Homo sapiens: one gene and its partner. The protein of the gene in region 1 purifies or fractionates together with the protein of each later gene. This does not show direct contact. Each region holds a gene or a part of one and is shown in the gene's direction. Other genes may lie near its edges.

Region 1 (4,001 bases):
AAGTGACTTGCTCAAGATCCCACGGCTGGGAAGGGCAGAGTCTGCTTAGATGACCCAGGCTTTCCGTTCTGTGCATGTTCCTGAGGCCTGCCACCTCTGACCATCAGCTCAGTGGTGCAGCGCAGACGCTCTGCCAGCAGTGGCCCGCCAGGCCTGGAGCCTAAGGGTCCAGCTCTCAGCTGTGCTGGGGAGCCACACTTCTTATCTAACTACCAGCTTGGGATGTCAGAAGGGCACTGGGTGGGGCCTGGCAGAAGACCCACTGTGCCTCTGGTCCAGGTTCACCATGGGCTGGAAGCAGGGCCTCTGGTACAACCTACGCCTCTCTGGCTTCAATCCTGTCACCATGGAATGGGGTATGGATCTCTGCCCCACCTTTGCCTAAGATCCTTGGGAAGATCACAAGCCATCGTGAGAGAAATTAGACAATCTCAGAGCATGGCTGTGGAGCACTGGTTGGGGGGTAAAGAAGGAGGGAAGAGAGAGCTGACTATGCCCTGTGTGGGGTACATACCCTCAATTCCTTTCTTTACTTGGAAAGTCATCCATATGCTTCAATGTTGAGTTTGGAATTCTCCTCCAAGAAGTCTTCCCTGACCTACCTACCCACAGGCTGGGTCAGAGGCCTCCCTCTCTCATAGACCTGACCATAGTATGTGGTCATTGCTTCCCCCATTATTTTCAGGGCAGGGACCACATCTGGGTCCCAGTCATTCTGCACTGTGTCTGCCCAGAGTGGGTGCCAGGGACGTCTAGGGGCCGGTTGAGTCCTGACTACCCCTGCAGCTTTGCCCAGCCCTCCACCCTCTGGCTCTCCTTGCCCTTTCCCCCTTACTTCTGCTCCCCTGACTCCCAAAGTGGAGAAGGAGCTGGGATGTCATTTGCCCAAGGCGGCCCTCTCTGTGGGCCTCAGTTTCCCATCAGCACAAGGTGAACTTTAAAAGGTTCTTTCTGAGCCTAGGCAGGCTCCATGCAGGGCTCTGGGATAAAGCCAGAAATCAGAAACACTTCCTCAACAAATGACTGTAAGACCCCACCCAATGGCATCCATATTAAATACAAGAAGGGCCATTACATCTGCAGGGGCCAGGGAAGGACCCTGAAAATGTGCACGGACAAGTTAAAAATCAGCGGGCTACGTGCGCACGCCGGTGGGGGCGCCACGTGGGCGAGGGCGAGGCCCACAGCTCCGGGGCGCATCACAAGGCCCGGGTTGCCGTGGCAGCAGCGGAGGCGGGCAGCGCGCAGGCCTGCCATGAGGGAAAGCCAGGATGCCGCCGGAGCTCATGGCTGGAACCGCGTCGGCTCCACGGCCACCAAGTGGTTCACCGGGGCGCCCTTCGGGGTGCAGAGCCACAGGTGGGGCCCGTTTGCGTCCTGGGCTCACGCCCACGGTCCAAAGCAGCTGCTGCCCACCCCGAAGCCACGCTTGGCCTCGGGAGAGAGGGTGTCCACCTACACACAGGGCTGAGCCTGGCGGGGAGGGGAACCAGAGGAGTGGGGGCCGGCAGTGAGGAGGGGCTGGGCTTTCTCTCCCCCTCTTGCTTAGTGCTCTTCCCTGCCCAGGGTTCTTTTACCATCTAAGTGAGTTCTTTAAAACCATTTCAAGAGCACTTACTATGTGCCAGGTTTAGAGAGGTCACATGGCCTGGTCCATAGTAGGCCACTCAGCTCAAAAGTGGTGGGTGGGATTTCAGCCCAGGTGTCTGTCTTCCATTCACTCATATTCCACTCTGTCTCTTTCTCTCTCTCACCTACTGTGTTCCAGGCACAGTTCTAGGATCTGGGGCTACAGCAGTGAACACAACAGCAAACCCCTGTACTCATGGAGTTTGCTCTCTTCTGTGGGGGGTGGGGGTGGGTAATAAACAAAAGTATGTACATCTGTAAAACCTTGGGTATTGGTAAGGACTGTGGAGAAAAATGAAGCTGGGAGGAGGAGCTGGTGGGTGGGGTGGGGTGGGGTGGGAGCAGCCTGGAACATTCAAAGCCACTGCAACTCCACTACTTTTCTTTCATGAGCTTGCTCCAAAGTCACCTTCCCGGGCAGCCAACTCCCCCATGCTCCAGAACTGCCCACGCCAGGGCCAGGTGCCAGGCACAGGGCTCTCACTGGGCCACCGTCCCTCCCTAGGTTTGACATCTCTGCTGTTTATCCCAACTGGAAGAAGTTCAGCACCTTCACTGAGGCCCCATACTCCACGCGTTATTCTACCCAAGTGGTGAGTTTGCACAGCTTCCCTGACTCCTCCCACAGGGTCTGGCCACTGCCCCTTCGAGCTGCCTGCTGTGGTGGATGAGCTGAGCTGTAGAAGGGGCGTACTTTCTACCTTCTTCCAGCACAGAGCTGGACCCACAGTGGGGGCTTCCAGTGTGTTTGATAAACGAGGGACTGCAGCACTCCCAGCTTGTGCACTGACTACCTCTGGGCTCTTGAAGGAGTTGTTATACCTTCCTGCAGTGTGAGGGGGCAGTGATAGAGGATGTCACGATTGCACCTTGAGTGCCAAGCCTGTTGGTGCCAGCCTTAGTGCTGAGGGTGGGAGCCACAGGGGGATTGCCTACTCCCTTCCTCCGGGTCAGGGTGGTGGCTTGGTGAGGGCCTGCTCTGTGGGTAGACTGGGCGGGCGTGGCTGTCACAGCTCTGACCACACTCTGACTCAGTCCCACATAGGCCCTGGGACTTACAGCTCCAAAGAGACCTGCTTCAGCAAGAAGAAGCTGATGAAGGAGGTGGACACAGGCTGGGCCAAGGCCCAGGAAGCCACGCGGCTGACCCAGCTACCCCACTTCCAGTACCAGGCCATCATGAAAGAGAAGCGGCTGAAGGTGAGGCCTCTGGGGCCATGCCTCTCCCTCTCTGGTGCCAGGTCTTCCTGTCCATTGCAGCTGCTCTGTGTGGCCTTCAGTGTCCTCCCAAGGCCAGATGGAGATTATCCTTTAAGGAACACCATCGTGCCTTGGGCTTCTTCCTGCGTGGATTTTCCCAAGTTTAAGGCTTTCATTTTCTCTCTTCTCTTGGCACAGGAGCAAAAGCTGGGCCCCGGCTCCTACAACCTCAAAGACTTCTTAGAACAGCTGCGGGAGAAACCATGTAGCACCCGGGGGCTGCTCAGCTCTGGGGAGGTTCGCTTCCGAGGACTCACTGGGGTAGGTGTTCTCATGTCTGGAGTCCCAAGCAGAGAGCCTGGCATACACTGGGTGCCCAACAAATTCATTCACTTACATATCCATCCAGCCAGCCAGCCAGGAATAAGGATTAAGCACCTCCTAAGTGGCATACACTGTCCTAGACCTTGGGGATCTAGCAGTGACGAAGACAATGTCCCTGCTCTCATGAAGTAGATGTCCTAGTGGTAGAAATAGTAGTACAAAGAAGGAAATATAATACGTATATAAGCAGGGCTATGAACACAAATTAGACAGGCAAGGGACAGGCAGTGATGGTGGTGCAATTGATAGAGAGTAGTCAGGGCTCTGGGAGGAGGTGACATTTGAGGAAACCTACAGGTCGTGAGCAACGGAGACTTGCAATGTCTGGTACAGCATTCCAGGCATTGGAAGCAGCAGAGGCTAAGGCCTTGAGGTGGGAACATGCTTGTCAAATCAGACCGGCAGGCAGGAGGCCAGTGTGGCCAGAGGGCACTGGCCGAGGGTGAGAGGAGGCGAGCGAGAGGGCAGAGGGGTGAAGGGCTGGGTCATGAGGGCCCTGCAGCCAAGGTGGGGCCTTGGTGTTATTCCAGGTGCTGCCGGGGGAGGGCAGTGGAGGGCTTTGACAGGAAGAGGACCTAACTTACCTTTTTAGAGGAAGACCTTCGAGAGGGCCAGGGTTGGGAGGAGGCGATGGTGCTGAGAGGTGGGGGTGGCAGCGCCAGGGGATGATGATCTCATCAGGAGGACACTGAGTGAGGCTGACACTCAGTAAGGGCACGAGGGAGAAAGCAGGAGTCACCCCCTACCAAGGGAGCCAGCACAGCAGTTTGTTGGCCTGGACCTCTCTG
Region 2 (5,239 bases), on another chromosome or scaffold:
TTATGTGGTCACTGGACTTTCAGTCCATCTGCATTTTATGTATGTATGTATTTATTTATTTATTTATTGTTTTTATTTCTTTGAGATGGAGTCTCACTCTGTTGTCCAGGCTGTAGTGCTGTGGCGTGATCTCAGCTTACTGCAGCCACGGCCTCCCAGGTTCAAGCAATTCTCCGGTCTCAGCCTCCTGAGTAGCTGGGATTACAGGCACACACCACCATGCCTGGCTAATTTTTGTATTTTTTGGTGGGGATGGGGTTTCATCATGTTGGCCAGGCTGGTCTCAAATTCCTGACCTCATGTGATCCAGTCGCCTCGGCCTCCCAGAGTGTTGGGATTACAGGCGTGAGCCATCGCATCTGGCTGCTCATCTGCATTTTAGATGTATTTTCAGAACAACCATTGCCAGCAGATTTATGTAATATTTAAATTCACATACTATACATTTATTTATTTAAATTCCAGAAGACTGGGACATGTTGGATGTTGATGAAGATGAAAAGCTAACTGGTGAAGAAGAATTTGAATTACTTGCTGGACCGCTTGGTTTAAATGACCGGCGCATTGTACCAGAACCAGTTCAGTTCCCTGACAGCGATCCACTGGGAGCATCAGTAGCAATGGTCACAGCCACCAACAGTATGGAAGAGACTCTGATGCAAATAGGTAAACTGAAATCCTGATTTGCATTGATTTTATAGCATCTACTATAATTTGTTTCTTAGATAGGTAAATAATAATAATAAAGTAAAAGTAAATAAGACTAATGGTTCAACATTATCTCACCCCAACAAGTCTCTTTAGCCAGTTGTTTTAACATTTTGAAGGTATAATGTGGTATTAAGTTTTGGCTGGGCTTGGTGGCTTATGCTCGTAATCCCAGCACTTTGGAAGGCTGAAGAAAGAAGGTCGCTTGAGGCCAGCAGTTCAAGACCAGGCTGGGCAACATGGTGAGACCCATTTCTATTAAAAAAATGAAGAAAAGTAGCTGGGTGGGTGGTGTGCACCTTTAGTCCCAGCTACTCAGGAGGCTGAGGCAGAAAAATTGTTTAATCCCAGGAGTTTGAGGTTATGGTGAGTGATGATTGAGCCACTGCACTCCAGCCTGGGTGACAGAACCAGACCCTGTCTCAAGAGGAAAAAATAAATGTTTTGATTTTTTTTTGTCTTTCATGATACCGAAGCAATAAAAAGATTTATAGAACTTGTTATTTAAAAAAAAACTTGGTGTTAAGAGAATCCTGTAACCAACTTAAAATTATTGTGCAGTCTTCTTTTTATTTGGGTGAGAGGGTGTGGTAAATTTTTGGTATAGGGAATACAAAATAAAGAATTGGGCAGTATTGGTAATTCAGTCCTTTATAAATTCTCAAAGCACTTATAATCAGTAGATGTGATACATGGGCAAAATGAACAAAACAGAAAATACTTACTGGTAAATTAAGTATAAATACTCCTATGGTAAATACATTGTTAACATAGAAATATCTAAGTTAGAAATATCCAAGTTCAAACTTAGAAATATGTGAGTTTCTCCTAAGAAATTTTCTGTATAACCAAGTTCCAGATGAGCAAAAGACATTGGTTTGTTATGGAACCTCTGTAGAATAGGAAATGTTTTTAGTAGTTCAGATGTATTTTTTTCTTACCTTGTTGAGAACAAAACAGAATTATGTTTTTCAGGTTGCCATGGCTCCGTAGAAAAGAGCTCCTCTGGGAGAATAACGTTAGGAGAGCAGGCAGCTGCCCTAGCAAACCCTCATGACCGTGTGGTGGCTTTAAGGAGAGTGACTGCTGCTGCTCAGGTTCTTCTGGCCAGAACCATGGTCATGAGAGCGCTGTCTCTTCTCTCAGTCAGGTAAGTGTTATTTTATGTCACATGATGCTAAGTTAACTTCTAGTGTACATTAGCTGGAAGTCTGGTGGTGTTTGGGAGGGTGAGATAGAATTTTAGAAGCTTGAATATGTACTGTTGAATGAAAGATGTTAGACGTAGTCATTGTTATTCACTCAATCGGTCATTCAGTTAATACTTGGCTCTTTTTAGGTAGAAAATAATGCCATTATCACAACTGAGTAAACTGCATACATTTTATTTTGTTGCTTGAAATGGGAAACTAAGGCTGTTGATCCCAATGGTGCTGGATCAAAAACTAAAGGTCAAAATGTATTGACCGTCTGTGTAGCTAAGTCAGCCTGCAGATGCCATCATGGGGATCCTTGCCGTGTTGATACTGTGGAGTGTAATGTAAAAAGGGGATGAGAACCAGAAATACCTAAAAGACAGCTGTTTAAGAAGTGATTAAGCAGGAGTATTTAATGGCAAATCAGTGAAGGCAGAAAGATCCTGAAAGAAAAACAAAATTTCCATAAGACTGTGTGCTATTGGCTCAAGGATAGGCAAATAGGATAGTACAGAAGAGAGTTAAGAAACTGACCCATACATATAAATAAACACTTGATTTATGGTTTGATTTATGACAGTGGTTCACACTGTAGAGCAATAGAGAAAGGCTGTTTTTTTCAGTAACTGAAGCAGGGTCTGATGGTTTATCCACATAGAAAAAAAAAGCCTTGGTCCCAACCTCAAACTATATAAAGCAAATAGTTATAAAGTGGCTATTAGATCTAAATATAAAAGAAAAATAAATCAATAAAGTTTATTGAAGGTAACATAGAAGAATTGCTTCTTGGTCTTGGGACAAGCAAAAATTCCTCAAGCAAGTCACAAAAGGAATCTGCCATAAAAGATTGATAAATTGGAATACAATAAAATAGAAAACCTCTGTTTAGCAAAAGTGATTTGAAAAGTAAGAAAGTAAAAAAGCAAGCCATAGAATGGGAGAAGATATTAGTAATGCATCTAACCAACAGAATGTGTAAAGAATTCCTATAAATTAACAAGAAAAAGACAACCCAGAAGAAAGTGGACAAAACACATTAAGAAGTGTTTCACAAAAGAGGATCTCCAAATGGCCAATAAACATGAAAAGATGTTCAACCTCAGTGAGTCTTCAGAGAAATGAAAATTAAAATCCAGTGTGATTGGGAGGCCAAGACGGGAAGAACCCTTGAGCCAGGAGTTTGAGACCAGCCTGGGAAACATAGTGAGACCCTGTCTCAAAAAAAAAAAAAAAAAAACCTAAGACAAAAAACCCACCAATGAGATACCATTGCACACCCACAAGAATGGCAAACATTTAAAACACTAGAGAGAAAAAAGTGACTGAAACAGCTAAAACTCCCATACATTGTTAGTGAGAAAATGAATTGGTATAACCACTTTGGAAAACTGTTCGATAGTATCAACTAAAACTGAACAGGAACATACTCTGTGACCCAGAGATCCACTTCTGGGTATATATCCAACAGAAATACTTAAATATGTGCCCCCTAAAGACCAATCATTCATGGTAGTACTATTCATAATAGCCCCATGTTGGAAACCGCCTGATTGTCATCTGTAGGGATAAATGAACTGTGGCAGATTTCATGTATATGTCAATGAAAACGAACTGCTCAATGCTACAAGATTTGGATGAATCTTACAAACATAATATTGAAGAAGCCAGACACAAAAGAGTACATATATTAATTATTCAATTGATGTAAAGTTCAAAAACAGGCAAAACTAACTTGTAGCTTTAGAAGTCAGGATAGTGGTTACTTCTGAGAGCATCGTGACTGAGAAAAGCCCAAAGCAGGTTTCTGAGGTACTGGCAATGTTCTGTTTCTTGATCTGGAGGGCGGTGACATGGGTTTGTTCAGCTTATGAAAATTTATGCTTTGTGAACATTCCTGTTTTACTTTGTCAGTTCAATTGTACTTCAAGTATATGCCAATACTTATTAAAAGGAGAGAACGTTTAGATGCCAGTTTCCAGCTTGATACCTTTGGCAACTCTTAGGACATGTATGGCTAATGATAGTGCAGCTTACATTTTATTATGGTTGTTGATGCTGTGAATGTTATGTGGGACTGCAAATGGTCCCTTAAGAAATCCATTTTCTTTATCCATCTGAGATGTTTTTCTTTACTGGCAGTGGTTCCAGTTGTAGCCTGGCTGCTGGTCTTGAGTCTCTGGGGCTAACAGATATCCGAACGCTAGTTCGATTAATGTGCTTGGCAGCAGCAGGGAGAGCTGGCCTCTCCACCAGCCCTTCTGCCATGGCTAGCACCTCAGAACGATCACGAGGTGGGCATAGCAAGGCTAACAAGCCTATCTCTTGCCTGGCCTATTTGAGCACAGCAGTGGGATGTCTGGCATCAAATGCTCCTAGTGCTGCCAAACTGCTTGTACAGTTGTGTACACAGGTAAGCTACTTTCAGTACTTTTCCCCGTTACATTGATTATTTCTGACTGATTCTTGAGCCTTTTGAAATGAAATATTTTTGTTCCAAAATTACATGTAAAAATTAAGTCTGTTTTTCCAATTGCTTCTTCAGAACTTGATTTCTGCTGCAACAGGTGTAAATCTAACCACAGTTGATGACTCAATTCAGCGAAAGTTTCTACCCAGCTTTCTCCGAGGAATTGCTGAAGAGAACAAGCTTGTGACCTCCCCAAACTTTGTTGTAACACAGGCCCTTGTGGCATTGCTAGCAGACAAAGGGGCCAAACTAAGACCTAACTATGATAAGTCAGAAGTTGAAAAGAAAGGTAAGTTTCATACTACTGAAACATACAGTCTTCTAATCGACTTCTTATTTTTAAATAATGTTTTTACATTGTTAGTATATGATAAATTATATGACGTGAGTTTCTTAAGTTTAGAACATAAAAGAAGTGCATAGATACTTTTTCACTGTGTATGGAAACAAAGATTAGAAAATGTACCATATTAGTTTAGTTATAGATTATGATTTGAGTTAACCATAGATAATAATCCTGGTAGGTTTCTTTAATAAAATTTAGATGAAGGCAGTGTTATTTTTCTCTTTGTTTTAAGATTATAACACTTTGAAGGGACTACTTATCAGTACTGCCTTTCTCTTCATCAGGACCATTTAGCCAAGAGATAACTGGCTTTTGTTTTTTGTTTCTTTTTGAGACAGAGTCTCACTCTGTCACCCAAACTGGAGTGCAGTGGCACAATCTTGGCTCAGTACAACCTCCACCTCCTGGGCTCAAGTGATTCTCCTGCCTCAGCCTCCCAAGTAGCTGGGATTACAGGCACATGCCACCATGCCCGGCTAATTTTTCTATTTTTAGTAGAGATGGGGTTTCGCCATGTTGGCC

What was found. The genes of interacting proteins can lie anywhere in the genome.
Region 2: the proteins of CIMAP2 (region 1) and HERC1 purify together in Homo sapiens (affinity purification with mass spectrometry; one large-scale study listed by BioGRID and IntAct). This does not show direct contact.

What each region holds. Positions count from the first base shown.
Region 1 is NC_000001.11:54,804,862-54,808,862, forward strand, and holds the start of CIMAP2 (ciliary microtubule-associated protein 2), read left to right. Parts: upstream 1-1,201; 5' UTR 1,202-1,255; coding exon 1,256-1,359; intron 1,360-2,134; coding exon 2,135-2,222; intron 2,223-2,664; coding exon 2,665-2,829; intron 2,830-3,027; coding exon 3,028-3,150; intron 3,151-4,001.
Region 2 is NC_000015.10:63,655,163-63,660,401, reverse strand, and holds part of HERC1 (probable E3 ubiquitin-protein ligase HERC1), read left to right. Parts: intron 1-465; coding exon 466-666; intron 667-1,668; coding exon of another isoform or gene 1,669-1,683; coding exon 1,684-1,858; intron 1,859-4,043; coding exon 4,044-4,314; intron 4,315-4,446; coding exon 4,447-4,660; intron 4,661-5,239. UniProt on the Homo sapiens protein: Involved in membrane trafficking via some guanine nucleotide exchange factor (GEF) activity and its ability to bind clathrin. Acts as a GEF for Arf and Rab, by exchanging bound GDP for free GTP.